Linked DNA regions of Homo sapiens: region 2 is linked to region 1. Evidence: fine-mapped expression QTL. A gene starts in region 1. The other region holds a variant in brackets. All regions are shown on one strand. Distances are from middle to middle. Region 1 holds the start of DHRS2 (dehydrogenase/reductase 2). Region 2 holds the start of LOC105370408 (a long non-coding RNA gene).

Region 1 (16,659 bases):
CCGCAATGTTCTCCCCGTTGACGTAGCTGGCATCTGGAGAGCACAGGAAGGACACGATTCCTGCACAGTCCTCTGACTCCCCAATCCTGGATGGAAGAAGGACACAGTGTCAAGCATCTTGTACTCTGATTCTGCTGCTCTGGGGCTCACGGATGACAGGTGGGAGTGGGCTCCATGGGGAACAAGGTGGATGCAGCAGGGCTACTTGCACCCTCCAGGGCCATGTGGACTCCAGATTTCAGCAAAAACAATGGCCAGATGACAGGGAGGGGTCTGCTCTTGCAATAGACTCAACTGCCCCTGCCTAGCCACACATGGACCACCAAATCTCCAAACCCCACTTGCCTCTGCAGCTGATGATGTTCCTTGAAGTTCTTCCAGAGAGACTCATTCCCATGAAACTGGGCAAAGGGAAGAAATGAAGGAGTCAGTGCTACTAAAACAAGATGGGCAGGGCCCCGGGAAGGCCACCAGGCAGAACACCTAGGGCAGCTTTGCCCTTCTCAAAAGAAGGAGCATCTTTTCAGGATGGATGGACTGCACCATGGCTGAGTTCAGAGAACAATGAGGACCTCAGTCATAGGCATGCTGACCTAAGGATTCAGTCACCCCTTGATCCCTTATTCACTGGGAAGGGTTCCCACTGAGCCAGACTGGGAGATGGAAGACACACCCAATCCTCACCACTTTGCTGAAGTCAGTTTTGATAATTCCTGGAACCACGCAGTTTACCCGGATGTCCTTGGGGGCCAGCTCCAATGCCAGTGTTCTAGTGAGACCCAGCAGCGCTGTCTTGCTGACATTGTAGACACCCAGCGCCTGGGAAGGGAATTGACAGAGTGATTAGGATATGGGAGAGTGGGGGAAAGCATCAGTTGGATTTCTCACCTACAGGGATCTCACAGGCCCAGCAGCCCTCCCACCCACATGGAGACAAGCTCAGCCCAGGGCAGCAGGAGGATGGTGGGGGTCTGTCCCAGGCACTTTGTCTGTAAGGCTCTGAGGAAAAGAACAAAGTTGCCCCTCACCCTATACCACTCAGGAGCACAAGGACCAAGCACTTACCACTACTGGATTATAAGCTGCAATGGAAGAGACCAGGATGACAGCACCCCTCCTGAGACAAGACAAACATAAGAGAAGCTGAAGCTAAGAGCTTACCACTGATGGTGACACTATCATGAGTTCATTAAATGATGCAACCCTCACAGAAGCAACACAGGTCCTATTACTGTCCCCATCTCAGAGTTCAGAAAACTGAGGCTCAGAAAGGTTTAGTACCAGCCAATACACGGCAGAGCTAGGATTCCATGCCTATTTCTCATAAATACGATGTCCATGCTCAGAACCCTTATCTTCTGCTTCCTCTCTTGCCAGGTGCTTGAAGGAGAGGGCAGGGTGGGCTTTGTGAAGAGGCACCCAAGGCTGATGGTGAGTGCCTATCAATGAGCAACCTCTAAGGAGCAGATGGGGTAAGGGAGACCAGAAGTGACAGTCAGGAACTTTCCTTCTACTGAAGACAGCCCCTGGCCAGTTCCTAAGGGTGTGTCTGTGAGGGGTACAGTCAGATCTGCAGGACCTGGAACACAGGCAGGGTCCCTGGAGACCAAGCGCAGGCATGAGGAGAGGTCTGGGACAGGCTTTTTCCTATGGAGAGGAATGGGGCTAACCCTGTCATTGGTTTTAAGTTGGTAAGAACAGAGAGCAGGTAAGGTGACAATGACCAGCCCACAAGGTCAAGGAGTTAAAGCATAGCCTTGTCCCAAACCTGCTGATGTCAAGGCCAAGGAGGCTATGCCTGGGCCCCTGGAATACTACTCTCATCCTGCAGCCACTGGAATTGGGAATGGCAGCCACACAGATGGGGAGGCAGGACAAGAAGATGAGGGATGTGGAGATCCCAGACCTCTTCTGTCCTCTACCCACTACTGGCTGTGCTACCGACTGTATTTCTGTGCCCACCTCAGGTCCCCAACTCCGACTGGTCCCCACCCCCGCCCTGCCATACCTGTTCTCCATGTAGGGCAGCAACTGGCTCAGCAGCAGGGCTGGGGACTTCACGTTCACACTTAGGATCTGAAATCAGAGCAGAGCATGGGTGAGGGCAGAGAGACATGGTCAGCCCAAGTCCTGCTCTCATAAGACACTTGGAGCCCTGTAATTTGTGCAGTAGACCCAATGTATGTGCATATAAGAGAAACCAATCCCCCTTCTGACTGGTGCAAGAGGTATTTCCAATTTGCTAATGGTTTCATAGGCAGGCAGGCTAAGTCACAGGCCTGTGAGCAGAGCCCTGAAAATGTGAATTGTTCAGGACTGACACGAGGAAGGAAATGTTCAGGCCTTTTAAAGAAAATGGGGACTGGGGGCAGTGGGTCATGCCTGTAATCTCAGCACTTTAGGAGGCCAAGGTGGGAGGATTACTCAAGGCCAAAAGTTCAAGACCAGCCTGAGCAACATAGTGAGACCTTGTCTCTACAAGATTTTTAAATAATTGGCCTGGTGTGGTGGTGCACACCTATAATCCTAGCTACTCAGGAGGCTGAGGCAGGAGGATCCCTTAAGCCCAGGAGTTTGAAGCTGCAGTGTGCCATGATCATGCCACTGCACTCCAGCCTGGGTGACAGAGTGAGACCCTGTCTCTTAAAAAGAAAACAACAACACACTGTAAGCAGAGGCCTCTGGAGAAAGACTGAAGACAGCCTGATGGAGGGGAAGCAGGTGCTAGAAGCAAGGGAGATTTCTGGAAGAGCCTTTTTTGTCTCTCTGAGCTTTCATTTGCTTGTCCTCTTACCTTGTCCCCATAGAATTTAAGGCATACTCACAATGCAACAGCATAAAATAAATCAAATAGGTACTATGTGTGAAGAAATGGAGAAAAGGAAAAATCAGTGTAGAAAAATAAGAAAAAGCAAGAGTGAGGTTGGTGCCTACAGTTCACAGCATGTGATAAGGACTGAGCATTTATTCTATTATTTGGTCATAAAAATGCAGGCTGTAAGGGCCTACACACACCAGCTTATCGCAGACTTGGCTCTGAGCTTTCCTGCAGCCAATACAAACAGGGAGACACAACAGAGAATTGCCATGCTGGGAGCTAGATGTCTATGCTGATCCTGCTTGTGACTAAAGTCTGAATCTGGGCTAAGTCACACATGTCCTGACACTCTGGAAGCTCTGTCTGGTGGGTCTGGGAACGGGGGAGAAGTGAAAGAGGAAGTAGCAAGGAAAGATGCAGAGGCGGAGCCTGGGAGCTAGGGCAGTGCCAGGTGGGACTGACATGGCACCAGGAGTCCCTCCTGCAGGGATCTGTCCTGATTCAGGTCAGCTGCATCCTGCATCTCTAGGGAATGAGACCACATCTGCAACTCACCAGGACTGTTCACTGTTTTTTCCACCCCCCAATCTCACTCCCACTCAATCCCTTGGATGTGGGAAGGAGAAATACTTAAGCTGAATGTTGCTGTGGCCCATTTGATGACAGGTTACCAGTGTGGGGGATGACCCCCAATGACTGCAAGAAGTGGTCCAGATGTCAGAAGTGGGTACCACCCTGAGGTCCCTAATAAGAAGGAATTGAGGATTAGGTTAGCTGTAAGGGTTTCCTGGTCAAAACAGACCCCAACCAGCCCACAGGATATCTGTCCAATACTCCATGTGCATCAGGCTGAGTGAGGGGCTGAGGTAAGACCCCTCCTGGACTCAGGAACAAAAACCAAGCCAAAGAAAAGGTGAGACTCCCTCCCTTGATGAAGAAAACTGCCCCATTAGAAAGTAAGAGAGAGTAGCTCAGTGTGCCAAGTAGTTCTGAGCAGAGAACTATCCATGAGCCTGAAAGAGGGCGCACGCTGGAGTCGCTGGAGAAGGATGGAGGTGATGTGGTTTTGGTAGTTTAACAGATCAGAGGTTTCCCAACCTGCTGGAAAGAAGGGGGGTCTGCCTGGAGATGGCCTCAAAACTGGCTCAAGAATAAGATGAGTGGTAAGGAATTCTCCTTACAGGACACCTACGGAAAACACATTTAGTTGAAAGCAGAGCATCTGGTAAATTCTAAACTCATTTTGTGACAATTTCACCTCTGAGGTGATGGCAGATGTGATCGGGGACGAGTCATCAATGATTTCTGTCCAGTGGTACAGAATTGCTCACTGAAGGCCAAGTCCTTGGAGAACAGGGGAGAATCAGAGAAAGTAAGGTCAGATTGTTGGCATCTGCCCTCAGCTTCAGGAGGGAGGACTGCAACAGTTTCGAGAAAAAGAGTCATGATCCTGTGAACTGAGACACTAAACAGCAAAATGATTCAGGAGGGTTAGGAGACTGTCAGCAATAAAATCCCAGCTATAAAATCACAAATGATCCTTTGGAGGCATTAACAACATAGCTAAAGAGCCTGGGGAAGCTGCTCAGCAGGGGCTGCAGGGAGCTCAAATTTCAGATCATCTCTGAGGATGTAGCCAAGGGCACCCAGCCAAGGGCAGATAGAAGGGAGGGGCCAGCCTGAAGATGATGTTGGCAAGTGAGAGTGCAGGATCTAGGGAAGGCAGAACACTCTAAGGCCAGAAGGCAGGAAACACTTTGACCCAGTGCTTAGGGCAGAGTGGTGAATGCTCACAATAGCAGAAAGAATGAGATTCATCACGACGCATTCTGGCAGAGAGAACAGAAAACAAAACATGAGAGTGAAGGGAACAGAAGTCACTGGGGAACAACTAGGCCCAAGATGAGCTTCAAGGCATTTTACAAGGTCTCTCCCGGTCCCTTGTGGACAAGGTAGCAGAATCCTTGAATGGACTTACAGCAGGCTGGGATGTCTAAGCCCCCGGAATGCTGATGGCTGGATCTGGTCCTGTCGGCAAGTTTGTGTGGGACTCAGTGAGGAGCCCCCTTCTAGGAGAGACAGTCTCCGCTACAGGCACAGGTCACCAAAGAAAAACACAGTATCCGTATCTTCCCCTACAAAAGGGTGTACCATACAAAAATGTTTGACTCTTACAGAGAGACTCTGACTAACCATTCACAGCTGTATCCCTAGAGCCTGGAATAGTGGTGCCTGGCAGACAGCAATAAATACCTGCTGAATGATTAAATGAAAAAGTGATGAGAAGAGAAAACAAAGCAGAAAGTGTGGGGGCCAGATTTAAGAACCAACAAGCCAGAAAGTAGCATCCGGGCACATTTTGGGAGACAGCTGGCCAGGCAGGACTACCACCCAGGGCCTGCTTCTCCCATAACCTCTGGAGGGAAACAGAGTCTTGGTGGGCACAGGCATGCTGGAGCCCAGTGCAGAGCTGGAATCGGGCCCTCAGCCGCCTCCCCAGGGGAGGCCTCTCACCTTGTCCCAGATCTGCTCACTGGTCCCCAGAGTGCTCCCTACCAGAGGGTTGACCCCTGCGCTGCACACCAGGAAGTCGACGCCCCCACAGTGCTCCAGGGCCTGCGGAGAGGAGATTGGATGAGTGTGGAGATGGCCTGAGGAGGACTATCCCTCCCAGGGCAGCCCAGGTCATAAGGCCTTCAGGCAAAGCTTGCAGAGCTCCTAAAGGAAAATGACCTAGGTGTCCCAAGGGCAGGCTCCTGGGGCCAGGCACTGAGAGAGGAAGGTCTGCTCCAGGAGTCCCTCTGGGGACCTCCCTCACCCCTTCAGACTCCTCCTCCACAGTGATTCTCCCCGGGCCTGGGGGTGGGGTGAGGGTCCTCTCACGAACAGGTCACTTTCCTGAGGGACCTTCTGGGTAGCGAGGTTAGCTTGGGCAGCCTGGGTGCAGTCATGGTCTCAGGACATATTCTAGACCCACCCCACAAGGGCCAAGCAGTGAAGGAAAGGTTCTGCATGTTCCCCTCTCTGTGTCCTTCCACCGCCTGCCCCCTCACCTTGGCCACCAGCTGCTCCCGGTCCTCAGCCTTCCCCACGTGGCACACAATGCCCGCCACACTCAGCCCCTCCCCCTGCAGCTTGGCCATGGCCCGGTCCACGTTCTGCTGCTTCCGGCTGCTGATGACCACGTGGGCCCCGTCCCGGGCCAGACGTCGGGCGATGGCAAAGCCGATCCTGAATGCAGAGATGGAGGGCAAAAGTCAGCCTCAGCCTCTCTCCACTGTCCTTCCTCTACCCAGCTCTGGAAATCAGCAAATAAGGCTGGGTCTTGCTTTAAAACCCTGAGTCCTTGTGGAAGCCACAAGGACCCTGTGAGGGGCCAGGACCCATGGGCAATCCAGCACTCACCCACTGGTGGACCCCGTGACCACGGCTACCCGGTTAGCCAGGACGCCCTTCCTGTCTATCCCGGTGCTGCTCATCCTCACAGAAAGCCTAGCACAGGGATGAAACCAGCCCTGGTAGCCCCGGGCAACTGCTGACAGCATAGTGGTTGGTGTCTGAGATGCTTCCTGCTGAATCAGGCCTGGGGGAAAGAATCAATTTCACTTATCACTGATGCCTCAGTGAGCATGAAGGTAATCTACCCTCCTCCTTCCTCCAGACAGACAAGGCCAGCAACAGAAAGTGGCAGAGAGTCAGGCTGGTTAGGGTAAATTTCAAACATGTGAACCTCAGGTCAGGAAAGCAATCCATGAAAACTCCTAAGCTATAAAACTGGGGAAATTATTCACAAATTAAAATGTGAGACTCAACATTCATTAGACAAGGGTGATTTTTCCATCCATTGCATAGCAAACATTGAGCACTGGCAATGTGTCAAGCACTGGGCAGTAGAGGCGGGGACACCTTAGTAAACGACAGACTCAGCCCTGGACCCCAACCATGCAGCTTCCCAGTTAAATGAGATGCCAGGCACCAACAAATAATTATACCAGTTATTAATTAACTGCTTCTGTGTCTGGAATTGGTGGGTTCTTGGTCTCGCTGACTTCAAGAATGAAGCCACGGACCCTCGCAATGAGTGTTACAGTTCTTAAAGATGGTGTGTCCGGAGTTGTTCATTCCTCCCATCCGGAGTTGTTCATTCCTCCCGTCCGGAGTTGTTCATTCCTCCTGGTGGGTTAGTGGTCTTGCTGGCTTCAGGAGTGAAGCTGCAGACCTTCGCAGTGAGTGTTACAGCTCTTAAAGGCAGTGCGTCTGGAGTTGTTCATTCCTTCTGGAGGGTTTGTGGTCTCACTGGCCTCAGGAGTGAAGTTGCAGACCTTCGTGGTGAGTGTTACAGCTCTTAAAGGCAGCGCGGACCCAAAGAGTGAGCAGCAGTGAATCAAGATTTATTGCAAAGAGCGAAAGAACAAAACTTCCACAGTGTGGAAGGGGACTCAAGCAGGTTGCTGCTGCTGGCTCGGGTGGCCTGCTTTTATTCCCTTATCTGGCCCTGTCCACATCCTGCTGATTGGTCCATTTTACAGAGAGCTGATTGGTCTGTTTTATAGAGAGCTGATTGGTCCATTTTGACAGAGTGCTGATTGCTGTGTTTACAAACCTTTAGCTAGACACAGAGTGCTGATTGGTGCATTTACAATCCTTTCGCTAGACACAAAAGTTCTCCAAGTCCCCACCTGATTAGCTAGACATAGAGTGCTGCACCCTTGCTTGTCCTCCTAGACCATGAGGAGGACCGAGAAAAATCGGATTTAGTGGCCCTTACCGACGCATTCTCGAAAACCTGTTAGAGTCCTAAGCATTCTCCTGTTAGTATTGGGAACTTACCCGTGTCCTATAAAGATGTTATGCCCCAAAAATGAAGAAGAGTAACCTGAGGGAGGGAAGGGGTCTCCAGGGTTGGAAAAGTGACACCTTTTGTCCTCACTTATATGAATAGGAAGGATACAATTTCTGAGGCTCCCCCTATCCTAGCTTCAGGAATAGCTTTTGTTAGACCTGCTTATCTGAGGAGGGATTCTAAAATTCCAGATAGTTCCCCCTACAACTGGGCTTTGGGCAAAAATTATGTCTTTCTGATTGGTGAGCCCAGGTGCCTAAAGAAGGTAACAGAGTCCTGAAATTTTTACTAGAAATCATTCTTATAAGAGAAATTAGAAAAGCACCAGAGACAGGGAGTGGTTTTTTAGAAGTGGGACTAGCCTAGGAGAAGAGAGGAGAGAGAAAGTTTGTCTGGCAGGCATTAGGACCCAGCGAGCAAGGGTCAGGATAGATAGGATAGATAGGTGAGTCTCACTTGGGCAACATGCCTTTGAGAGTTCCGCTCATGGCCGCAGGGTCAACCAACTTGTTGTGGGGACTCCGGAGCTGAATGGCTTTCCTCTCTGTTGACCCTCAGCTCAGCCCAGAAGTACAGGAAAAGCGGAAGCTGGTTCCAGGCAAAACAACATTCCCAACTCCACAGAGCCAGGGGTTGTTAGAGATCCCTTTCCCAGAAAGCCTGACACCCACGTTTTTAGTCCAGCGGCTGCGCTAGTCACTTTTAACTGGCCGACAGGTGCCCAGAATTTAGCCACCGAATTCTAAGGAAAAATAGGACAGAATAGCAAATGAAAGGGATCTGATGGTACTCACCACTTGGCGATAGGTGATAGTCTCACCGCTTGGTGATGGTCTCACCACTTGGCAATAGTCTCACTGCTTGGCAATAGTCTCACCACTTGGTGATAGGTGACAGTCTCTTCAAAGTCACCAAAATGTGTACGGAATTGATGGGTTCTTGGCCTCACTGACTTCAAGAATGAAGTTGCAGACCCTTGCGGTGAGTATTACGGTTCTTAAAGATGGTGTGTCCAGAGTTGTTCATTCCTCTCGGTGCATTCGTGGTCTTGCTGGCCCCAGGAGTGAAGTTGCAGACCTTCGCGGTGAGTGTTACAGCTCTTAAAGGTGGCACGGACCCAACGAGTGAGCAGCAGCAAGATTTATCATGAAGACCAAAAGAACAAAGCTTCCACAGCGTGGAAGGGAACCAGAGCAGGTTGCTGCTGCCGGCTCAGGCAGCCTGCTTTTATTCCCTTAACTGGCCACACCCACATCCTGCTGATTGGTCCATTTTATGGAGAGCTGATTGGTCCATTTTACAGAGAGCTGATTGGTCTGTTTTACAGAGAGCTGATTGGTCCGTTTTGACAGAGTGCTGATTGGTGCATTTACAAACCTTTAGCTAGACACAGAGTGCTGATTGGTGCATTTACAATCCTTTAGCTAGACACAAAAGTTCTCCAAGTCCCCACCAGATTGGCTAGACACAGATTGCTGATTGGTGCATTTACAAACCTTTAGCTAGACACAGAGTGCTGATGGGTGCATTTACAAACCTTTAGCTAGACAGAAAAGTTCTCCAGGTCCCCACCGGACCCAGAAGCCCAGCCGGCTTCACCTCTCAATGGCACACACTGCAGGACTTTGCGGCACCTAGCCCAGGCACTCCAGCAGCCCAGAGGGAGCTCATCCCCCAGTCAGGCCCAGCTGGCACCGGCCGGCCCACGGAGCCCCTGCTGGCCGGTGAGTGCCCTGTACAGTGTGGGCTCCTGCCGGCGCCTCTCCCTCCACACCTCCTGGCGAGCAGAGGGAGCTGGCTTCGGCCTTGGCCAGCCCCAGAGAGGGGCCCCCACAGTGCAGTGGTGGGCTGAAGGGCTCCTCAAGTGCAGCCAGAGTGGATGTGGAGGACGAGGAGGCACCAAGAGTGAGCAAGGGCTGCTAGCATATTGTCACCTCTCACTTCTAGTTGAAAAAGCAAAATCAACAGAAACTCTCATTCACTGCTGGGTAGAGGGTAAGTACAATCACTTTGGGAAATGATTTGGCATTATACGGAGAAGTTGAAAATAAAGATCTCTGACTCTGTAGAGGGAACTTGCATCCTGCAGACAGGAGGTCATGTGTGCACCAAGAGACTGTACACACAGGTTCAGAGAAGCCTGCTTAGAATGTTCCAAACTGGAAACAAGTCTGTATTAGTTTGTTTTCACACTGCTATAAAGAACTAACTGAGGCCAGGCACGGTAGCTCACACCTGTAATCCCAGTACTTTGGAAGGCCAAGGTGGGCAGATCCCTTGAGCTCAGGAGTTTGAGACCAGCCTGGGCAACAAGGTGAAACCATGTCTCTATAAAAATTAGCTGGGTGTGGTGGTGCATGCCTGTAGTCACAGCTACTCGGGAGACTAAGATGGGACGATTGCTTGAGCCCAGGAGGTCAAGGCTGTGGTAGGCTGAGATTGCACCACCGTACTCCAGCCTGGGAGAGAGAGCAAGACCCTGTCTCAAAAAAAAAAAGAACTACCTGAGACTGGGTAATTTATAAAGAAAAGAGGTTTAATTGACTCACAATTCCACAGGCTGTACAGGAAGCATGGCTGGGAAGGCCTCAGGAAACTTACAATTAAGGCAGAAGGTGAAATGAAGCAGGCAGAACTTACACAGCTGGAGCAGGAGGAAGTGAGAGCAAAGGGGGAGGTGCTACACACTTCCAAACAACCAGATCTCATGAGAACTCACTCACTATCACAAGAGCAGCAAGGGGGAAATCTGCCCCCATGATCCAATCACCTTCCACTAGGCCCCCTCCTCCAACATTGGGGATTACAATTCGACATGAGATTTGGGCAGGGACACAGACCTAAACCATATCAAAGTCTATATGCCTATTAACGGTGGAATGGATAAACAAACTGTGTTGCATTTCTATAATGGAATACTATACAATAATGAAAATGAATGAGCTGAAGCCACACTGAACAACATAAAGGAATCTTAAAAAATATACTGTTGAGTAAAAGAAGTCAGACACAAAAGAATACATATTATTTGAGTCCACAAGTTTCAACAACAGGTAAAACAATTCTATATTGCTTAAGAAGGCAAACAGGTGACAAAAATACAGAGAAATGCAGGGCAGTGATCACCACAAAAGTGAGGAGAGTGGGTATTTCCGCAGTAGAGCTGTGGGGAGGCAGTTATGATTAAGAAGGTGCAAACAGGCTAGGCACGGTGGCTCATGCCTGTAATCCCAGCACTTTGGAGGCCAAGGCAGGGGGATCACTTGAGGTCAGGAGATGGAGACCAGCCTAGCCAACATGGTGAAACCTCATCTCTACTAAAAATACAAAAATTAGCCAGGTGTGGTGGCGCATGCCTATAGTCCCAGCTACTTGGGAGACTGAGGCAGGAGAGTCGCTTGAACCCAGGAGTTGGAGGTTGCAGTGAGCCAAGATTGCACCACTGCACTCCATCCTGGGTGACAGAGGGAGACTCCGTCTCAAAAAAAAAAAAAAAAAAAAAAAAAAGAAGGGGCAAACTAAAGAGCTTCTAGCGTGCTGGCAATGTTGTATTTGATAAGCAAGTGATGCCTACATGATGTCCATGAAGATATATTATATCACCTATGTATGTGTATACTTTTTACGTATGTGTTATAATTCACAATTTAAAAGTTTAAAAGTAAAGATTACCTGCTCATGGTAAATTTTAAAATTCAAGCAGCTTAAAACTTAATTCAAAAATTAAATCCTCCAATTCCCTTCTCAGAAGAAAATTTGCCAGCATCTCAGATACTTTCTCAAAGTTGTTCTATGCAAAGGGCTTTGCTTTAAATAAGCAAAACTTTCTGATTTTAAACATTCAGTTCACAGAGGGCTTTCATGGAGTATCCTAGCCAGGAAGCAGAGGATCAGTAATGAGTGTCATGTGAGTTCCTTGAACACAGGCTCCACTCCTCCCTCTTGGGGCCCAGGGCTTGAAACACAGGAGTGCTCAATAAGGCTGGTGAGCTAATCAGGCTGGGAAAGTTGCAGGTAGATAGGACCTGCAAGACTGAGGAGGATTTTGACAGGGGCAGCAACAGGATAGATCCTCCTGTCAAGGGGAACAGGCTGAGAGGAAGAATGGAGGGTGTGGATGTCCAGGGTGTTTGGGAGAGAGCAGGGATGCCTATGTGCCTGGAATACAGAGAATGGGGGGCTCATGCCTGAGAAAGCAGACTGCAGTTCTGAATGACTCCAGCAGGCCGGTGCTGATTGAAGCTCTCTGAAGGGATGTCCGTGGAGCTGAGCCAGTTAAACCAGCCACAGACATCCAGGCTGCTGTGTGGAGACCTGTGCCCTCAGGAGGCCCTTCAGAAGGGAACGGTGTGCCTCTGTAGCTATGCGCAGATGTGAAGGCAGGGAGAGGATCTGGCATGGGAGACTCAGGTATGAAGATATATCACCATGAACTGGAAAATGCCAGGGATGCTTGTCTAGGAGACCCTCTTTCACCCAAATCCTAATTTCCCAGCTCCACATTCATGTTAGCCCAGAGGCTCCTGCCTTCCCCTATGTGGGATTCCCATTGGCCTGCCATTCCCTACTCTAATGGAAGAATCTGATGAGCTTCCTGTTGAGAGAGGGAGGGAAGGAGTGGTTCCAGCAAGGGGTTAGTTAGCAGGGCACTCAGGGACTTAGCAGTGTGCTTTTCATGTGGGACAGGACAGTGCCAGGAAGGTGAAGAGAGGCAGGCTCTGGCAGCTCTGGGCCAAGGGGCCGACAGATGTGAACTTGCAGGAGGCTCTGGCCTGGGATGACTCTGTCTACAGACCCTCATCAGTTCCAGACATGCTCTGGCCACTCCATCACCAAGGGACTCCTGGTTACTAAGCAACCCCTGCCTTACCTACTGCATCTCCCCTTGTTCCTTAGCAACTCTTGCATAACTCAGTTCCTTCGAGTTAGGGGTCTGTATCTATAAATTATAAGTGAATGGGTGCTGCTCAGGAATTGTGAAGAAACTGTCTATTAAATATCAGTCTGTACTCAGTGTCAAAATGCAGGCGACCAAATGCTTTGCTTTGGGAAGGAAGCCTTGATTTCCGATTTATATCTCTTCTGATATTGTATTTCCAAAAACAATCTTTGTAGGTCCTAGACCTCCTCCCTCTTTCCTCCCAGCTGCTTCCACTCTGCCTGCTGTTGCTCTCGCTTACTCTCTCACGCCTCTCTCCTTCCTGCAAGGTCATATTTACAGCCTTGCATTACGTGGAGACAAGGGGTTTCAGCTCCTGATTGGTCTACCTTTTCTAAACAGGACACCAGATTCTGAACATTGTTATGCCCCCCCTGGGGAACTCCTCTCCTTCTGCTGCGAGCTCAGATTAACCCCCTTTTGAGGTTGAGAGGAATCCAGTCTCCTTGGCTGGGAGGACAGCAGGAAAAAGAGGACTCGCCTTTTGTCGGGACAGGACGCCCCCTGCTGGAAGGCTAGAGTAACAGCACCTGTGAGATGTGTTCCTAGCTCAGCAAGTCTGGCTGTCCCCTTTCTGGCCTCTAACAGTTCTTACCAAGCCCTGCTTGTCTGAACTTGCCTCAATGTGGTTTGCAGGAAAGCTGACCTATTGTAAGGAAAGGCAACTCTGCCTGGACTGTTGCAGGTAAACAACCTGCAGAGATGAAGTCAGGCCTCCTCTGTCTCCCCTGCTTCCCCTTCCCATGCAAAGCCCCTCTTTTGCCTGGGAGGATGGGAAGAGTGAGCAGCTTCCAAGGCCTCTGGTTCACCCTACCCCACTCACTTATGCTTTCCCCAAAACAGTCAGCTCGGTCAGCTGCAGCAGAATTGACCACAGGTCCTGGGAGCTTAGAATGGTCCCTGAGCCTGGCACTGCCCACTCTGATACCCCTTTCCATGCTTATCAATTCAGATGCCCAAATTTGGGGGTGGGGAAGCTGAATGGGCACACCCTTAACCTAGTCCCATCTTGGAGGTGAATGGCCTTCAGCACTGGTCCAAAGAGAGAAGAGAAGGGAAAAGGAAAGGGGTGGGGGGGGTAGAGGAAGAAAACAAAGATTAGAGGAGAAAGAATGAGAGACATGGAAGAGTTAGAAATATTGAAAATCAGAAAAGAGAATAATGTAAACAGGAAATAAAATTCTAAGCTCCCCAACCAACTGAAAGCACTCCTCTGCTTGGCAAAGGGCATTCCAAAGTCAACTTAAAAAACCAGTGCAGGCCATGATGGGAATACAGGGTTGGACATGCCTCATTATACCCTCCTCCCTTTTGAGTTCAGGCATGACTGACCAGCATTAACAGTAAAATGGAGATCTTAGGGCTGAAAAAACAGACTTTTAGCAATAAGATACCAAATTCTAACCTGACTCTAGTATAGCATCACATGACAGATAGCAGGTCCTGAAAAAAACTGAAGTATTTTACATCAAAATGCATTTCTTTGACATTTTTTGAAATGGCCCTGCAAAGCTGTCTCTTGTGAGGAAAATTTACATCCTATAGAAAATCCCCTTCTCTTTCCAGGTCTTTTCCTGATCCAAGAGAGATTTAACTAAGAGTCTGGCACCTTTTAGGATCTGATAAAAAATATTTACAATCTATTATCTATGATGCCTACTACCTGGAGGCTTCATCTACGTTAACAAGAACCTTGGCTCCCACAACTCCCCTTATCTTAACTACAAACATATCTTTCTATTGACCTCAACTCTTTAGGCAGAGCTTAACCCTTTCAACCACTTGCCAATCAGAAAATCTTTAAATCTACCTGTGACCTGGAAGCCCCCACTTCAAGATGTCCTGCCTTTCTGGGCCAAAACAATGTAATCCTTACATGTATTGATTTGTGTCTCTGCCTGTAGCTTCTGTTCTCCTAAGATGTATAAAATCAAGCTGCAACCCAACCACCTTGGGAATATATTCCCAGGACCTCCTGGACCTGTGTCATGGGTCATGGTCCTCACATTTGGCTCAGAATAAATCTCTTCAAATATTTTACAGTTTGACTCTTTTTCATCAGCACTAAGGAGATATCAGCAGAAGCTGTGTGATCTTGGACAAGTCTGTTCCCCTCTTGCCTCCATCTGTATCACAGTAAAATAAGGGGTTGACTTGGGTGGTCCAAAGGACTTTGATAGCCCCAAGAGCTTTGTATTGATAATCAAAGAAGAAATAGACTGAGCTGCAGACATAGAGGCAGGAAGAAAGAGCATCAACATAAAAAGTGAACAGGAGTGAAGATGGGCAGTTCCAGTCATTATAGACCCAACCCAAGGCAGTGAGGCAAGGCAGCCCCAGCCTGAGCCACATCATGCCTGCCCTGGGCAGTGTGATGCTGGCCCAGGCTTACCTGGCTGTGCACCTGTCTGTCTGGAGTGCAGTTTGGCAGCCCTTCTGTCAGGCAGTCTGCAGCTGAGTATGAGGATGTGAGTAAGCAGCAGGCTGGATTTCAGGCACTGCAGATTCTATCTGAACAACACAAAGATTCCTGGAATTTATAGCCCCAGAATTCAGAAAGGTTGGAGGAGGGTTTCAGAAAAGGCCTCACCCACAACTTGGGAGGAAACCTAGGGGAAGTGCAGGACTTGTTGTCTGAGTAATATTCTGCAGAATGCTGCACATACCACTTAACAAGCATAACCAGCAAAAGAGTCCAGCTGCTTGCTGCTTGTGGAAAGAAGTCAAAATAATAATAGTTATGATAAGAGGGAGCAAGATGTCTTTATTATCCATGCTAGCAGGGGAAGAGTAGAAAGCAATTCCACTCTTCAATTCGTGGAGGGAACGTAGGAGTTTTCAAAGAAAGGGTTTGGAATACAGAATATGACTAATTATATAGTATTAATAATATAATAATAATTAAATTATTTAAATCATTATAACTAGGCTCAAACACATCTTTAGTAATAAAAATAGGAACCATTACAATCAACACATTTTTGCCAATGAGAAATAAGTTTATTTATTCCTGTAGCATAAAAATCCATGCTTCAGGATTCAGCAAACTCTTGGAAAGCATTTTCTGCATCCTGCTGGTTGTGGAAGTGTGTTCCCTGCAAAAAGTTGTCGAGATACTTGAAGAAGTGGTAGTCAGTTGGTGAGAGGTCAGGTGAATATGACAGATGAGGCAAAACTTCAAAGCCCAGTTAATTCAACTTCTGAAGTGTTGGTTGTGCAATGAGTGGTTGGACATTGTCATGGAAAACTGGGCCTTTTCTGTTGACCGATGCCTGCTGCAGGTGTTGCAGTTTTCAGTGCATCTCATCAATTTGCTGAGCATTCTTCTCAGAAGTAATGGTTTTGCCAGGATTCAGAAAGCTGTAGTGGATCAGACCAGCAGACCACCAAACAGTGACCATGGCCTTTTTTTGGTGCAAGTTTGGCTTTGGTAAGTGGTCATTGCTGGTTGTCATATAAAATTCACTTTTCAACTGGATAGTGGTTCACTGTTGTTGCATAGAATAAGAGAAGATGACACTTTAAAATAATAATTTTTTTGACTTTGAGTCAGCTCATGAGGTATCCATTTATTGAGCTTTTTCATCTTTCCAATTTGCTTCAAATGCTGAATGTAGAATGGTCAGCAACTTCTAGTGCAGTTGTAAGAGGATCAGCTTGGATAATTGCTCTCAATTTGTCATCAGCTTCCAATGGCCAGCCACTATACTCCTCATCTTCAAGGCTCTCGTCTCCTTTGCAAAACTTCTTGAACCACCACTGCACTGTACATTTGTTAGCAGCTCCTGGGCCAAATGCATTGTTGATGATGTGAGTTGTCTGCACTGCTTTACAACCCATTTTGAACTCAAATAAGAAAATCGCTCAAATTTGCTTTTTGTCTAACACCATTTCCATAGTCTAAAATAAGTATAAAATAAACAGCAAGTAACAAGTCCTTAGCCAAAAAAAATGCAAAGCAAGAAATGCACATTAAAATGATATATAACATAAGCGCATATATATTTTTTTTCTCTTTTTTTTTTTTTTTTTTGAGACGGAGTCGCACTCTGTCGCCCA
Region 2 (16,797 bases), 54 kb before region 1:
TGACAGAAGGGATAGAAGGGAGGAACTCACTACCTCAAACCCTTTTATAAAGGCATTAACCCCATTCATGACAGTGGAATCCTCATGGCCTAATCACCTCCTAAATGTCCTGCCTCATAACACTGTTGCACTGGGGACTAAGTTTTGACATGAATTCTTGAGGCATGCAAATATTCAAAGCACAGCAACAGCCTTCACTTATGGTGTTGTGGGAAACTGAGGACCAGAGAGACTGATATGAGAGTATAGGAGGATTGTTTATTTTAGGTACACACTGGCTCAGCGGACTCACATCCACAAAGCTGAGCATTAAACAAAGACAGAATCGGGTTTTTATAAGTGGACTTACAATAAATAAAACAAAAGCAGTTAACCAAATGATAGGTCATATAATCTATAGCATAGCATAACTTGTGGCCTTGCATAGGTGGTGGCCTTGTAGCTGCATTGAAAGAAAAACAACAACCGGCTAAATACAGACATTTGTAAAACATAATCATGCTTAAGAAGACTGGGAAAGGAGTAACAGTAAAAGAATTTGTCTTTCTTTTTTTTCCTTCAACCTTGCTCTGGTGTTGGGGGGTATCTGGAGTCCATTCCTTTGGCCTTGGTTTCTCAAACAGTATTATCTTATTACTGTCCTTGAAGTGAGCTTGCTGCACTTTCCTCTGCTAGGCAGAGGAAAACTTGTTCTTTTCTTTTTAACCCTTGCCTTTTCTGTTACTTTTCTTGGAGTGAATGAATGCATATTTATTTTTAAATTTCTGCCTCAGTTTCCCCCCTTTGATGCCTTTTATAAAAGAAGTTTAATAGAAGGCATCACTATTACTTAGTTCTGCCTGAAGGGACGAGTTTTCTTATTTAGACAAAGGTTGATATTTATGCAGAGCCATTAGCTGAGTGGTAGTTTGCCTAGCTACTATTGCCTCTATACTCGATTGAATGCTTCTAACAAGGAGAGGTAAGAGACAAGGGAGTATTAGGCAACTTCCTAATATGGCCAGAACCACTCCTATTAAAGTCTTGAACCCTCAGAAAAATAAAAACCAAGCCTCCAAAGAGAGAATCTGGAGACCACCCTTTCCAAGTTTGAACTGGAACATGGGCTAATTTTCTCATTCTTGCAGTTATTTCCATAATTGCCTTTCCATTGTCATCGATTTCCAGGCAGCAATTTGTTAAATTGAACTTTCCACATACTACTCCTTCTAGGGCTAGGAGATAGTCTAAAGCTAATCTGTTCTGATAGATAGCGTTCCTCATTTTTGTGCCTTGCTGGGCCAGACGGGTCTGGGTTCCCTTTTTGATAACATATATGAAGGTTGCTGGGTATGTGTGTATGTAGACATGTAAGGAGGAACCTGCAGTCCACCAGCATTTTGGTAAGCATAATTGACCTTTGTTGTGGCTAGGGTGCCATGATATGCAATACCAACAATCTTTCTCTGGGGTCCCAGGGGAACAATGTGGAGTTGCTCTTGGCGTGCATACATATTTGTAGTTATTTCTATAGTATCTTTCCAAAGGTAGGTTACCACAGATGGGTGAGTCTTGGTATGCTACCTAACGAGCATCAAAATACAGAGAAATAGTCCCTCAGTAAAAGGGAGGGACCCTGGTTTGGTTTAAGAGGAGACCTTCTTTTGACTGCACGAATTTCAAACCATTCACCAGGTGAAAACTTGGGGTCATAACATACATAAAGTTGGTTATTTCCTGGGTCACAAACTGAGTAGGTGGTTTGACTATAAGTACAAGTTCCTAAGCGATTCCCCATACACCCATAATAAGTATGGTACAATAGAGTTTTAGTTATGCTGTTCCCTGACCAAGTAGTATGTGTACGGTGGAGACACCCTTCTGTGGGTGATTCTTCTAGCATGGTTAAGGGGGGTAACAACAGCAAAGCAATGTACAGCATATTCATATCCAGCAAGGACAAAAGAGGTCCTTACCTGGGGAAGAAGATTGAGCACAGCGACGGAACAATAGTAAAACAGTATTACAGGAAAACTACTAGTCCTAAGATTTCTAACTACATTTACTTGCTTGACAAGTCCTCAAGCTTCAGCTGTGCATAGACTAGTCAGCTTCTGGTGTGTGACTAGAGCAGAGCTTGTTGTTTCCTCAAGCTTCACCCGTGTGTAGACTGGTCAGCCTCTGGAGTGACCAGAGCAGGGCTGTTGTACTCAGCAGCAACTCAGTCTTGTCACAAGATCAGCCGAGTCAAATGGTCTGGGTCCTGCTGGCTGGTTCACTTGTCCTGAGCTGCCGGTTTCAGCCAACTGTGGTGGATCCAAGACACAACAGCTGCAACTTTAACAGCAGTGGGAAAGGACAAGATTACTGTATGGGGCCCATCCCACATGAGTCTTAGAGAAGTTGGGTTCTACTTTTTAACCTAGAGTTACCAGGTTTAAAGGGGTATCAGGTTTTTAGGCATTTTTTTCATGTACCTAATTATGAACACTTTGCATGGCTATTTCTGCATTTGTTTTCTTAAAGTTAATTCCCCTAGTTCCTGGAGATCATCTTTAATTTGACTTATGATTTGGGGGTGGCCCACCGAACAAAATCTCATAGGGTAAATACCCAGTTTGTTTGGTGGGGGTGCACCTGACTCAGAGGAGGACCATAGGCAAAACCTGATCCTATCTCAGATGAATTTCCTGGCAATATTTCTTCAGTAGCTGCTTGAGTGTCCGGTTCGTGGTTCCACTTTTCCTGAACTTTGTGGCCGATAGGCTGTGTGTAACTTCCATTTTATTTTTAACAGTCTTGTTAAATCTTGCACTATTTCAGCTACAAATGCTGACCCATTGTCTGACTTTAAAGTTAGAGGCAGTCCAAACCCGGGGATAATGTCTCTTAACAGTACTTTAGTCACTTCTCGTGCTTTTTCTGTCCTAGTGGGGAAAGCCTCACTCCATCATGAAAAAGGTGCAAATAAACACTAGCATATACTGCCAGCCTCCAGCATGGGGCATTTCGGTAAAGTCTATAAGCAAGTTTTTCACAAGGCATGAAGGCATGGCTCCTTCTCAGTTCAGTGTCCCAGAGGAAGGATACTTTTTCTTCCCCCGACCCAACCTTTGTAACTTTATATAGTGGCTTAGCCATCAGTGAGAAATTTGGGATCCAGATGTGGCAGAATCCTGCTGCCTTCAACTTCTAATGTGACCACGGGATCCTGGAGGCTTAATGAAAAGGAGCCTGGTCTGTCCTAGTCCTCATACCCTTCAGCTCTTGCCAGCCCAATCAGATCAGTATCTGGTTCCTCTAACGTGCGGCAGCCCTTGGCCAATGACTTCTTTATATCACAGCATTTACCACTCTCTTTATTACCTTCTGGACATTCATCCTTCCCGTGTCCTTTCTTTTTGCATCCCGCACATTAATCTCTTTCTAGCCTTGTCTGGCTCTTGAATCTCTGCCTAACTTGACCGCTTCCACATCCACATTTGCGTCCACGTCCTCTCACATTGCTAATCTCTCTATAAAGACTGCTGCCAACAGATTGGCCTTTTTCTTAAGCCTTCAATCTGCTTCCTTTTTCCTTCCTGAGTTCTCCTGTTCCTAAGGCCAGCGGGCCAGGCAATGACACCGGCCCCGCCCCCACGCACACACTGCCGTAGGTCTCTCCTGTTTCTTTCGGATTTCTGTTTTTACTTTCTTCTTTCCCTTCTCACATTTACTCTTTTGGGCTGGGTGGGGTCTGCACAACCGTAGTCCCCCTGGGCCATCATTGGCCCAGAGGCTTGGGAGATGCCTGCCGCAAAATGTCAGAATTATGCCCTTCCATCTCCTTTGCTCTTCTCCCGGTGCTGGTCCCCCCCTCCCCCCTCTTTTTCCAGATAGAGCCGGGCTGGGGAAAGGGGCTTAACCCTTGGCGTGCCTAGCTGCCTGGCACCACACTTGTTGCTTTTGCTCTTTTCTGTTTTGTTCTCTGGTCCTGATTAACGTACACTGAGTGGCATTCATGCCTGCAGCTTCTGCTTGATGTTACCCTGGGCTTGCCCTTCCAATGCTGTGTTTACCATGTGCTGATTTTCAGCAGCCTCAGGGTGAAATGGGGTGTAAAACCAGAATACTTCACAAAGTCTCTGTAATACTTCACAAAGCCACTGACTTAGGCTCTCATCACCTCCCTGAAGCACTTTTGAAATCTTCCCTATATTAATTGCTTTCTATCAGCTCTTATCCCTTGCAAAAGCGACCTTTTGGTACCTCTGCAAACGCTGAAGTTGTGTTGCATCCACCAGGTCCCAGTTGGGATCTTGGTCTGGGAACTGACTCTGAGCACGTACCTGAGCATTCACTGCATCTTCTGGTGCATTGGCTTCTAGCCAGCAGAGAGCTGCCTATGTTACTCTCCTGCACTCCTCAGTGTTAAATAATGTGAGGAGGAGCTGCCTGCAGTCTGGCCCGGTTGGATTGCATGTCAGAAAGATGGATTGCATCAGATCTGTAAGAGCTTGGGGCTTCTCCGTGTAGGAGGGAATGTGGCATTTCCAGTTTAAAAGATCAGTGGTTGAAAAGGGCTGGTAGATGAAAGTTCATTGCCCCCTTGAACCTGGCCTTGATCATAATAATAGATGGGTCCTCGCACCTCCCTGAGAGGCATTTGCATAGCTCAAGCACAGCCAGATCTGAGACTGCCTGCTTGACTATCTTGACTTCCTTCCCTGGCCTCTCGAGGCTCCGATTCTGCCCTTTGGGGTGAAACTTGGGGTGTGTTAGCTCCTGAATCTGGTTCCTGGGGGGCTGTTAGCCTTGGCAAAGGGGGGTAGGCTGGGACGAATCTCTGTTCCCTCTGGCAGCTCCTGCAAAACTGGCTTCTCTTGCTCTCTCTGGAACTTCCCCTTTAACTCTGTGTCTGCCAGTGAAGCTGCTAAATAGGGCTGGATCCAGGCTGCTCTTGTCTGTGCTATATTTAACCATGAATCAATTTAAGGAAATTTGTCTGGGTACCCTGGCTGTCCTCCAAGCCCTGTCACCACCTTAAATGCACAGCCAATTATCCCTATCTATAGTTCTTTCAGTCAGCCACCCAACACCAAAAGAAGGCCACTCTAATTCACAGAGAGTTCTCAATCTTTGGGGGTTTAGCTTAAGTCCATAATCCCTTGCAAAATCTTTCTTAAGGTTCTGTAACATGTACTCCAATGGAGTAACTTTTGATGACTTTCCTCCCATTCCTCCCTTTACGACACAGCACAATCACTCTTGCACACTCACTGTTCCTCTCATTTCGGCCGAATATACCATCTCCTATTATGGGAGTTTTCAGATGCTGCTTGGCTTTGCAGAGGTCCTTATTCTCACTGCAACTCTGAGCTATGGGGCAGCTCCTATTAGCCATATGCAGATCACCACTAGTCTTAGTTGGCCCCACACGTTCTTGGAGGATACAGTCCATGCTAAGAGATCTGTGACTCCCCACTTCACAGCTGATGAGCCTAATTAGGCCCCTCCATTCACACACTTCCACACACTTCCCCACTCCCAGTTCCCGTGTTTGTAATTGGGGTGGCAAGCCACTCTCACCCCCTCTACTTTCCCAGTTGGGGTGGTGAGCCACTCTTGCCACCTCCAGTTTCCTAGTTGGGGTGGCGAGCCACTCTTACCATCTCCAGTTTCCTAGCTGACTTAGCGAGCCACTCTCGCATCCTGTGTCGACTGGGGTGTGAGATTCATCCGAATTGATGAGCTACTCCTGTTGCCCCCAGCCCCTCTGGGTCGAACTATTCGGCACATCCCAGGAGGTGATTAGGCTCCCCTTCCATCCCCATGGGACAGGTCCTGCCTTGGGCCCTAAAACCTTACCGCAGTTCCTGAAGGGTGCTGTTTCTGAAATTGTCCTGTAGCTCCTTTCAGGTTCCATTGCACTGCTGGGTAGGGGCGCCGGGTCAGGGGAGAGCTGATTTCCTCTCCGGGCTGAAGTTCTTCCAGTGGTACCTGGGGTCACAGGTCTCCTGAGGCCCAGGGCTCCAGCGCCCAGAGCCAAAGGAAACAGTAAACCTGCTGTCTCTGGTCCTTTTGTGGTCACCAAAAATGTTGCAGGAAACTGAGGACCAGAGAGACTGATATGAGAGTACAGAAGGATTGTTCATTGTAGGTACACGCCAGCTCAGTGGACTCACATCCAAAAAGCTGAGCATTAAACAAAGACAGAGACAGGTTTTTATAAGCAGACTTACAATAAATAAACCCAAACGTTTATCAAATATGATAGGTCACATAATCTATAGCATAGCATAACTTGTGGCCTTGCATAGCTGGTGGCCTTGTAGCTGCATTGAAAGAAAAACAACAAGTGGCTAAATACAGACATTTGTAAAACATAATCATGCTTAAGAAGCCTGGGAAAGGAGTAACAGTAAAAGAATTTGTCTTTCTTTTTTTTTCCTTCAACCTTGCTCTGGAGCTGGGGGGTGTCTGGGGTCCATTCCTTTGGCCTTGGCTTCTCAAACAGTATTATCTTATAACTGTCCTTGAAGTGAGCTTGCTGCACTTTCCTCTGCTAGGCAGAGGAAAACCTGTTTTTTTCTTTTTAACCCTTGCCTTGCCTGTTACTTTCAGAGTGAATGAATGCATATTTATTTTTAAATTTCTGCCTCAATAGGAGGGGGTGGGGAAAGAAGAGAACTCCTCACAGTCAGATTTATAAGGCAGTGGGAGAGGCCAGATAATTATTTCTGTCTCCTCTACAAAGAGGGAGAGCGAGGTGGAAAAGGAGCAGGCTTAAGAAGACTGTCCTGGGCTGAATTGTGTCTATCTGCCAAAGCCTAACCCCTGCCACCAATTCATACATTGGAGTCCTAACCCCAAGTACCTCAGAATGTGACGTATTTGGAGGTGGGGTCTTTAAAGAGGTAATGATCGTTAAATGAGGACATTGAGGTGGGCCCTAATCTAATATAACCAATGCCCTTATAAGAAGAAGAGATTAGGATGTAGACACACATGAGGAAAAACCATGTGAAGACAAAGGGAGAAGATGGCCATCTAGAAGCCAAAGAGAGAGGCCTGAGAAGAAATCAACCCTGAAAACACCCTGATTCTGAACTTCTATCTTCCAGAACTGTGAGAAAATAAATGTATGTTGTTTAAGCTACTCAGATTATGGTGCTGTGTTATGGTAACCTGCTATGGTTTGAATGTGTCTCCTAAACTTTATTTGTTGGAACCTAAATCCCCAAATTCATATGTTTATGGCATTTGGAGGTGAGGCATTGAGAGAAAATTAGGATGAGATAAAGTCATCAAGTTATGCCTCCATTATGGGACTGGTGGCTTTATAAAGAGAAGAAAAAAGACCTGAGCTGACATACTGTTGCCCCCCTGACAGGTAATCCCCTCTATCTTTTTATGATGCAATAAGAAGGCCCTCGCCAGATGTGGCCCCTCAAGCGTGGACTTCCCAGCCTCCAGAACTGGAAGAAATAAATTTCTTTTTAAAATAAATTACTAGTCTGTGGTATTCTGTTAATAGCAATAGAAAATGGATTAAGACAGAGCTTTAGTTGGGCCAGGCATGGTGGCTCACCCCTGTAATCCCAGCACTTCGGGAGGCCAAGGTGGGCGGATCATGAGGTCAAGAGATTGAGACCATCCTGGCCAACACGGTAAAACCCCGTCTCTACTAAAAATACAAAAAAAATTAGCTGGGTGTGGTGGTGCATGCCTGTAGTCTCAGTTACTTGGGAGGCTGAGGCAGGAGAATGGCTTGAACCTGGGAGGCAGAGGTTGCAGTGAGCTGAGATCTCATGACTGCACTCCAGCCTGGTGACACAGTAAGACTCTGTCTCAAAAAAAAAAAAAAAGACAGAGCTTTAGCAAACTAATACAACTGGTGGTTTAAATATGTGTTGATGGGGAAGGGAAGTGGTCCTGAGTAAGATCATGTGGAAAAGGTGACGAGTGATATCAAAAGTCAATTTACATTAAAAGCCAAATTTGTTAAGTGAATTTCTACAACTTTCCACAACTTAGCTATGGAAGAAAGGACATTTGGATTGATCAGGCACAAATATTCTCCCAACAGTGTACAGTGAAAAAGAAGTGAGGAAAGCAATTAAAGAACTTACAAGACAGTAACTGAAGGGATATATTGTGCAGTCTAGGCTATATAAAGAAGGAAATAAAATGAGAGAGGGATTTACAGATTAGGACAATACAGAGAGGTCAGGGAACAAGAATTCTCTGTAATGTTGAAGAGCTGATGTAAAAGGAAATAGAGCAGAAACCAGTGGAAAAGCAAGAATTCGTGGCCAGAGAGTAGGATGTATACATTTAATATTTCAAGATAGAAGGGACCTGGGTGATGACAAGTCTAAGTCACCAACACAATTGGAAGTGGCTGAAGTGAAGTTGAGCTGAAGCTCACTGGAACTGAGGATGTCAAAAAATCATAAGGCTAAATA[T/C]TAAATTAGTTGAACAAACAATTTACCCAGGATGAAGATAACACTTCAGGTAGGGATTCCATTTCAAGATGGCTGAATAGGAACAGCTACAGTCTGCAGCTCCCAGTGTGATTGACACAGAAGATAGGTGATTTCTAAATTTCCAACTGAGGTACCTGGTTCATCTCATTGGGACTGGTTGGACAGTGGGTGCAGCCCACAAAAGGCAAGCCAAAATAGGGCAGGGCATCACCTTACCCGGGAGCACAAGAGGTTGGGGTATTTCTGTTTCCTAGCCAAGGGAAGCTGTGATAGACTGTACTTGGAAAATCAGGATACTCCTGCCCAAATACTGCACTTTTCCAATGGTCATAGCAAATGGCACACCAGGAGATTATATCCTGCGCATGGCTTGGCAGTTCCCATGCCCATGGAGCCTTGTTCACTGCTAGTGCAGCAGTCTGAGATTGACCTGCAAGGCAGCAGCCTGGAAGGGGGAGGGGTGTTTGCCATTGCTGAGGCTTGAGTAGGTAAACAAAACAGACAAGGAAGCTCAAACTGGCCAGAACCCACCGCAGCCCAGCAAGGCCTGTTGCCTCTGTAGATTCCACCTCTGGGGGCAGGGCATAGCTGAACAAAAGGCAGCAGAAACTTCTGCAGACTTAAATGTCCCTGTCTGACAGCTCTGAAGAGAGCAGTGGTTCTCCCAGCACTGTGTTTGAGCTCTGAGAATGGACAGACTGCCTCCTCCAGTGGGTCCCTGACCCCTGTGTAGCCTAACTGGAAGACATCTCCCAGTAGGGGCTGAATGACACCTCATATAGGCAGATGCCCCTCTGGGATGAAGCTTCAAGAGGAAGGATCAGGCAGCAATATTTGCTGTTCTGCAATATTTGCTGTTCTGCAATATTTGCTGTTCTGCAGCCTCCACTGGTGATACCCAGGAAAACAAGGTCTGGAGTGGACTTTCAGCAAACTCCAACAGACCTGCAGCTGAGGGACCTGACTGTTGAAAGGAAAACTAACAAACAGAAAGGAACAGCATTAACATCAACAAAAAGGACATCCACACCAAAACTCCATCTGTAGGTCACCAACATCAAAGACCAAAGGTGGATATGGACAGAGGAAGGGGAACATCACACACCGGGGCCTGTTGTGGGGTGGGGAGAGGGGGGAGGGATAGCATTAGGAGATATACCTAATGTTAAATGACTAGTTAATGGGTGCAGCACACCAACATGGCACATGTTTATATATGTAACAAACCTGCACGTTGTGCACATGTACCCTAAAACTTAAAGTATAATTTAAAAAAAAAAAACCACAAAGATGGGAAGAAACCAGAGCAGAAAAGCTCAAAATTCTAAAAACCAGAGCAACACTTCTCCTCCAAAGGATCACAGGTCCTCTCCAGCAAAGGAACAAAGCTGGATGGAGGATGACTTTGATGAGCTGACAGAACTGGGCTTCAGAAAGTCGGTATTAACAAATTTCTCCAAGCTAAAGGAGGATGTTTGAACCCATCCCAAGGAAGCTAAAAACCTTGAAAAAAAATTAGACGAATAGCTAACTAGAAGAAACGGTGAAGACAAGACCTTAAATGACCTGATGGAGCTGAAAACCAATGCATGAGAACTACATGACGCATGCATAAGCTTCAATAGCTGATGCGATCAAGTTGAAGAAAGAGTATCAGTGATTGAAGTTCAAATTAATGAAATAAAGCAAGAAGAAAAGAGTAAAAAGAAATGAACAAAGCCTGCAAGAAATATGGGACCATGTGAAAAGATCAAATCTACATTTGATTGGTGTTCCTGAAAGTGACGGGGAGAATGGAACCAAGTTGGAAAACACTCTTCAGGATATTATCCAGGAGAACTTCCCAACCTAGCAAGGCAGGCCAACATTCAAGTTCAGGAAATACAGAGAACACCGCAAAGATGCTCCTCAAGAAAAGCAATCCCAAGACACATAATTGTCAGATTCACCAAGGTTAAAATGAAGGAAAAAATGTTAAGCGCAGCAAGAGAGAAAGGTCAGGTTAACCACAAAGGGAAGCCCACCAGATTAACAGTAGATCTCTTGGCAGAAACTCTACAAGCCAGAAGACAGTGGAGGCCAATATTCAACATTCTTAAAGAAAAGAATTTTCAACCCAGAATTTCATATCCAGTCAAACTGAGCTTCATAAGTGAAGGAGAAATAAAATCCTTTACAGACAAGCAAATGCTGAGAGATTTTGTCACCACCAGGCCTGCCTTACAAGAGCTCCTGAAGGAAGCACTAAATGTAGAAAGGAACAACAGGTACAAGCCATGGCAAAAACATGCCAAATTGTAAAGGTCATCTATGCTAGGAAGAAACAGCATCAACTAACGGGCAAAATAAACAGCTAACATCATAATGAGAAGATCAAATTCACACATAACAATATTAACCTTAAATATAAGTGGGCTAAATGCCCCAATTAAAAGACACAGACTGGCAAATTGGATAAAGAGTCAAGACCCATCAATGTGCTGTATTCAGGAGATCCATCTCACATGCAGAGACACACATAGGCTCAAAATAAAGGGACAGAGGAAGATCTACCAAGCAAATGGAAAAAAAAAAGCAGGAGTTGCAATCCTAGTCTCTGATAAAACAGACTTTAAACCAACAAAGATCAAAAAAGACAAAGAAGACCATTACATAATGGTAAAGGGATCAATTCCCTTTACCATTCCAACAAGAAGAGCTAACTATCCTATATATATATGCACCCAATACAGGAGGACCCAGATTCATAAAGCAAGTCCTTACAGACCTATAAAGAGACTTAGACTCCCACACAATAACAATGGGAGAGTTTAACACCCCACTGTCAATATCAGCCAGATCAACGAGACAGAAGGTTAACAAGGATATCCAGGAATTGAACTGAGCTCTGCACCAAGAAGAACTAATAGACATCTACAGAACTTTCCACCCCAAATCAACAGAATATACATTCTTCTCAGCACCACACCACACTTATTCCAAAATTGACCACACACTTGGAAGTAAAGCACTCCTCAGCAAATGTAAAAGAATAGAAATCAAAACAAACTGTCTCTCAGACCACATTGCAATCAAATTAGAACTCAGGATTAAGAAACTCACTCAAAACTGCACAACTATATGGAAACTGAACAACCTGCTCCTGAATGACTACTGGGTACATAACGAAATGAAGGCAGAAATAAAGATGTTTTTGAAACCAATGAGAACAAAGACACAATGTACCAGAATCTGTGGGACGCATTTAAAGCAGTGTGCAGAGGGAAATTTATAGCACTAAATGCCCACAAGAGAAAGCAGGAAAGATCTAAAATTGACACCCTAACAGCACTGAGAGGCTGAGGCACGAGAATTGCTTAAACCCAGGAGGCAGAGGTGAACCAAGATTGCACCACTGCACTCCAGCCTGGGCAACAGAGTGAGACTCAGTCTCAAAAAAAAAAAAAAAAAGAAAAAGAAAAAAAGAAAAGAAAAGAAAAGAAAAGAAATAAAACATTACAAATTGAATAGAACCTCCACTTTGCGCTTCTTCCAGATCCATTCTCCTCTCTCTGCCCTCCCCAGAGGTGGCTGCTGTTCAGAAGTTGTATATATCCTTCTTGTTCATGTTTTGTACATTTTACTACATATGCATTCATAAATCATATGTATTGTCTTATTTGTTTTTAAACTTTACCAAAGGTGGTGTTATCACATTGTACTTATCATTATGCAACTTACTGATTTTTAGCAACCTTGTTTTTGGAACTGAACCACAACATACGCATCTCTAGTTCATTCACTTGCACCAGCATAGAATATTCTCATTGTGTGACTAAACACAATCTACTTACCTACTTTCCTGTTGACGGTCATTTAGGTTGTTTTAATTTTTATCTATTACACATAACGCTGCCATAAGTATCCTGTGCATATCTCCTTGCACCACACATGTGTGAGCTTTTCCCAGAGTTTATATCTGGGAGGAAGAAGCTGGGTCAAAGATCACATGCATCTTGATTTTTACTGTATATTACCAAATTTGTTTTCCAAAGCCATTGTAGCAACTTACACTTGTATGAAAGCTCCTATTCCTCCATATCATTCCTAATGCTGGTGCTTTCAGACATTTTCATCTGTGTCATTCTGGTAGATGTTAAAGAGCATCTTGTCTTGCTTTGCATTTTCTTGATTAGCAGTGAGGTTGATCCTCTTTTCCTGCTGGGTCATTCAGGGTTCCTCCTCTGTAAATTGCCTGTTCGTTCTCTGTCCATTTCTTATTGGGTTGCTTGCTTGTTTCTTATTTGTTTTTAAGGTATTTGCATATTCTGAACCTACTCCTGTTTTGGTAGGCTTTGCTCATTTTACTTCTACTTTTTGCGGTCATCTTAAGACCTCCAGGTTACCTACCATTCCTCATTCCTTGAAGATTTTAGCACCTGGGTCATTGTCTCTTTCTAGGACCAGATCTGTCTCAATTATTAGTGACTTCAACATTCATAAGCATGATCTTCTTAGTTCTTTGACCCCTTCATTCCCGGTGATCCTATCCTCACCCTCCTCCAAGCCACCAACTTCCACAGTCATGCGTGAGACCTTGCCATTACCAACAACAGCATTCTCCCCATTACCTTGAAAGAAGCATCTCACTCTTTCACTATGGCTTCTCATCTTTCAGCATCCTCCCTCCAATAGCCCAGTTTCAAAATTCTTCAAACCTAATGGAACCTGCTCGCTCTCCACTGACCTGTCACTTTGCACATCCGTCACCCCATTCGTGTCCTCACCTTCTATATAACTGAGCTTAATTCCACCTTCCATCATGAGAGTCTCTTATCTGTATGTGTAGTTGTTCCCTTGCTCTTCTCTTCCTCTCTTGGACTTTTCCAGGAAAAAAAAACCCAAAACTGGAGAAACGTAGCTCTCTGTTTACTCTCTAATAGCACACAAGCAAATGATATTGACTAGGGAAAAACACACAAGCATGGTGAAGGGTCTTTCTTTAAATTCATGACCACTGACCTTAGGAAGGTCTTTAGTGCTGCCCTTCAATCTTGCTTCACTTCCCTGGTCAATTCACTCTCTTATACTCTTACAGACAATTATCTTATAACTTCTCTTTTCTCAAACTTCCAACACCTTCTACTTCCTCACTTAGCTGATGGCCTTGTTTCTTATTGCACTGAGATTGTAGAAGCAATCTAAAAAGTATTACCAATCCCTTAAACAGTATTACCAATCCCTTACATAGGTTCCAAATTCTCTGCTTTTCTTTCTAGTACAGTGGATAAACTGTCAGTGCTCCTGTGTAAAACCAACCTTCCATTTTTTTCCCTGGGTCCCATCCTTTCTCACACCTCCTCAAGGTTATTGTTCTTTACTGGATCATTCCCATCAGCATGAAAACACTCTGTATATTTTCTATATTTAAAAACCACAATCCCTTAATATATGATGCCCTCAAGTACCATCCCATTTTTCTCCCTCATTCTACAGAAAAACTCTTCAAAAAGATTATCTGTGTGCACGCTCTCCACTTACTCTTCTCCTGTTCTTTGTTGCACCTACTCCAAACAGCCTTTCATCACCACTGCCCTGAAACTATCATTGAGGTCACAGATAATCTGTGCTTTGCTAAATCCAATGATAAATGCTCAATCTTCACCCTACCCAGCCTCTCAGCAGCATTTGACATATTCGCTTGCTCCTTCTTGACACACCTCCTTCTCTTTGGTTCTCTTCAAATCTCACTGAATGCTTCTTCTCAGTCTCATTCACTGGTTCCTTCACTTTCCTCCCAACTCTAAAATTGGAGTATCCCAAGGCCCAGTCCTCAGACCCTTCCTCTGTAAATACTAACCCACTAGGTGATGTCTTCCAGCCCTATGGTTTTAGATACCATTTATTAGACCGACCACTCTCAAATTGCTATCTCAAGCTCCACCCTCTTTCCTGAACTCCAGACTCATATACTGTTCAGCTGCCTACTTGATGTCTGATAAGTGTCTCTAACTTAACGTGTTTAAAACCAAGCTCTTAATGCTCTACGGCAAGCCTGTTCCTCCCATAGAGTTCACCATCTTATTAAAAGTTACCATTGTTAGCCCAGTTGCTTAAGCCTCAGAGTCGCCACACCTTGGCTTCTCCTCTTCTCTCACATCCCACGTCAGCAAATTATATCTTCTCTACCTTCAAAGTATATCAGAACACTTGATTAACATCCACTTCTTACCACCTCTACCCCTGTCACCTCATCCCTTACCTGGGCTATTGAAATAGCCTTCTAACACAACTCCCTGCCCCTTCACCCTTGCACCTTTCCAATCTACTTTCCGCACAGTAGCTAGAGTAATCCTATAAACTGCACTCATATCCTGTCGCTCCTTAGCACAAATCCTCCCATGATGTGCCATGCCCTTTAGATGTCCTTGCCATGGCCTTCAAGGCCCTGTGTCCCCTGGCCTCACTACTTGCTCTTTTACCTCATCTTCTACCACTCCCTTCTCCCCGATCCCAGCCACACTGGCCTTCTCGCTGTTCTTCAAAGGCCAAGTACTCTCCGGCCTCAGAGCAATTGTTCAGCTGGTCTTTCTGCCTGAAAATTTCTTTTGCCTGAATATCCACGTGCCAAACTCCCCCAATTCCTTCGGGTCTCTCTTCAGGTGTCACCTATCAGGACAGCCTTCACCAACCACCCTGTATAAAGTAGCAAACCCACCTATGATCACTTCCTAGTCCCTTACCCTGCTCTATTTTTCTCCATGGCACTTATCATCACCTGACATGTTACATATTTATTTGTTTACTGTTAACATAAACCATCACTAGAGCAAGGACTTTGTTTTATTCACTGCTCTGTCCTTAATACTAGGCCAGTGTGTAACAGCAGCTCAATAAATATTTGTTGAATGAATGAACAAATTAATGAATTATTTTTCCTGAAAGTTTTACAGTTTTGCATTTTTCATATTTAGCTCTTAATTCAACTTTAGTTTATTTTTGTATATGGTTTAAAGTAGGAATCTTAATTTATTTTCATGTGGAAAACCAGTCATGTGGTTATCATTTATTGACTAGTCCTTCCTTTCCTGTAATGACTTGTAACAACACTTCTGTCATTTCCCAAATTTTCATCTATGTGAGGGTCTCTTTCCAGGCTCTCTATTCCATTCTACAGGTCTACTTGTCTATCCCTGTTCCAATAACACAACATTTTATTTACCACAGGGCTATAATAAGCCAAGTACCCTCATCTTATTTTTCTTTGTCGAAATTGTTTTTGCTATTTTCAAAGTTTCCATTTTCTATATGAGTTCCATTATTTAAAAGCAACAACTGTTGAGATTTTGATCAGAATTGCATTTACTTCATTTATTAAAGTGGGGACAGATGGACATCTGTAAGCTGTTGAGCCTTCTTATATACGAAATGTCTTTCCACTTAGTCAGAGCTTCATTTTGCTCTTCAAAGATGTTTTATATGGGCACCAGCCTGAGTGACAGAGTGAGACTCCATCTCTTAAAAAAAGATAGCTTATAGTTTTTCCATGAAGATACTGAAAAAAAAAATCTATGTTCTTTTTATTCCTAGATATCTTATAGATCTTGTGAATGTTACCTTTTAAAAAAAAAAAACATTTTTAACTGGCACCGTGTTAAATGGCAACTGTATTGATTTTACATGTTGACCTTGTAGCTAGCAAACTGCAGAATTATCTAACTAGTTCTAATATATTTTCAAAAATTCTATGCATTTGGTAAATATTGAATTTTTCTCTTCTCTATGAATTCTTATGCCTTACTTTTTTTATCTCATTGTATTGACAGACCCTCCAGTGTGATGCTGGATGGTGGGGTGATGCAGGCATCCTTGTCTTATTCCTGACTTCAGTGGGAATGTAATGGTATTTACCATTAAATGGTATTTATTGTAGGTATTTGGTAGAATTTTATACTAATTTAAGAAAATTTTCTTCTAGTCTTAGTTTGCAAGTTTTAAAAATCATGAATAGATTTAAAACTATATAGAAGAAAATTTTGCATCTGTTAAATGATTGTATGGATTATTCCTTTGATCTGTTGGACTGGATTATGATGATTAATTTTTGTTGGTGAACATTCCTTGTATTCTTGGGATAAACCCTTCATGGCCATGATTTATTTATATAAAATATATATAATATATATACTACTGTATACATACTATTACAACTTCATGATTTTTGCATCCATGTTCACCAATGAGATTAATCTATAATTGTCCTTATCCTGGTTTAGAGTTGTTTATTTAAAAATGAGATGGGAGGCGTTCTGCTTCCACTTAGGATGTACGAAGCCACAAGAGAACATCACCCTCACCCTAGTAATGAAAA

Evidence for each region.
Region 2: its variant is fine-mapped to the expression of DHRS2 in liver (GTEx, PIP 0.99).

Annotation. Positions count from the first base shown.
Region 1 is chr14:23,628,569-23,645,227 of GRCh38, reverse strand. DHRS2 (dehydrogenase/reductase 2) reads right to left here and starts at 8,864. Exons shown (of 9, transcript NM_005794.4): 1 at 8,456-8,864; 2 at 6,224-6,401; 3 at 5,872-6,049; 4 at 5,333-5,434; 5 at 2,009-2,076; 6 at 1,066-1,117; 7 at 685-819; 8 at 346-401; 9 at 1-86. The coding sequence starts at 6,363.
Region 2 is chr14:23,682,376-23,699,172 of GRCh38, reverse strand. It overlaps LOC105370408 (a long non-coding RNA gene), which reads right to left and starts at 6,442. Exons shown (of 3, transcript XR_943609.2): 1 at 6,201-6,442; 2 at 5,827-6,067; 3 at 239-2,316. RefSeq lists an enhancer at 4,279-4,795. The variant T/C (reference allele first, on the strand shown) is at 8,427.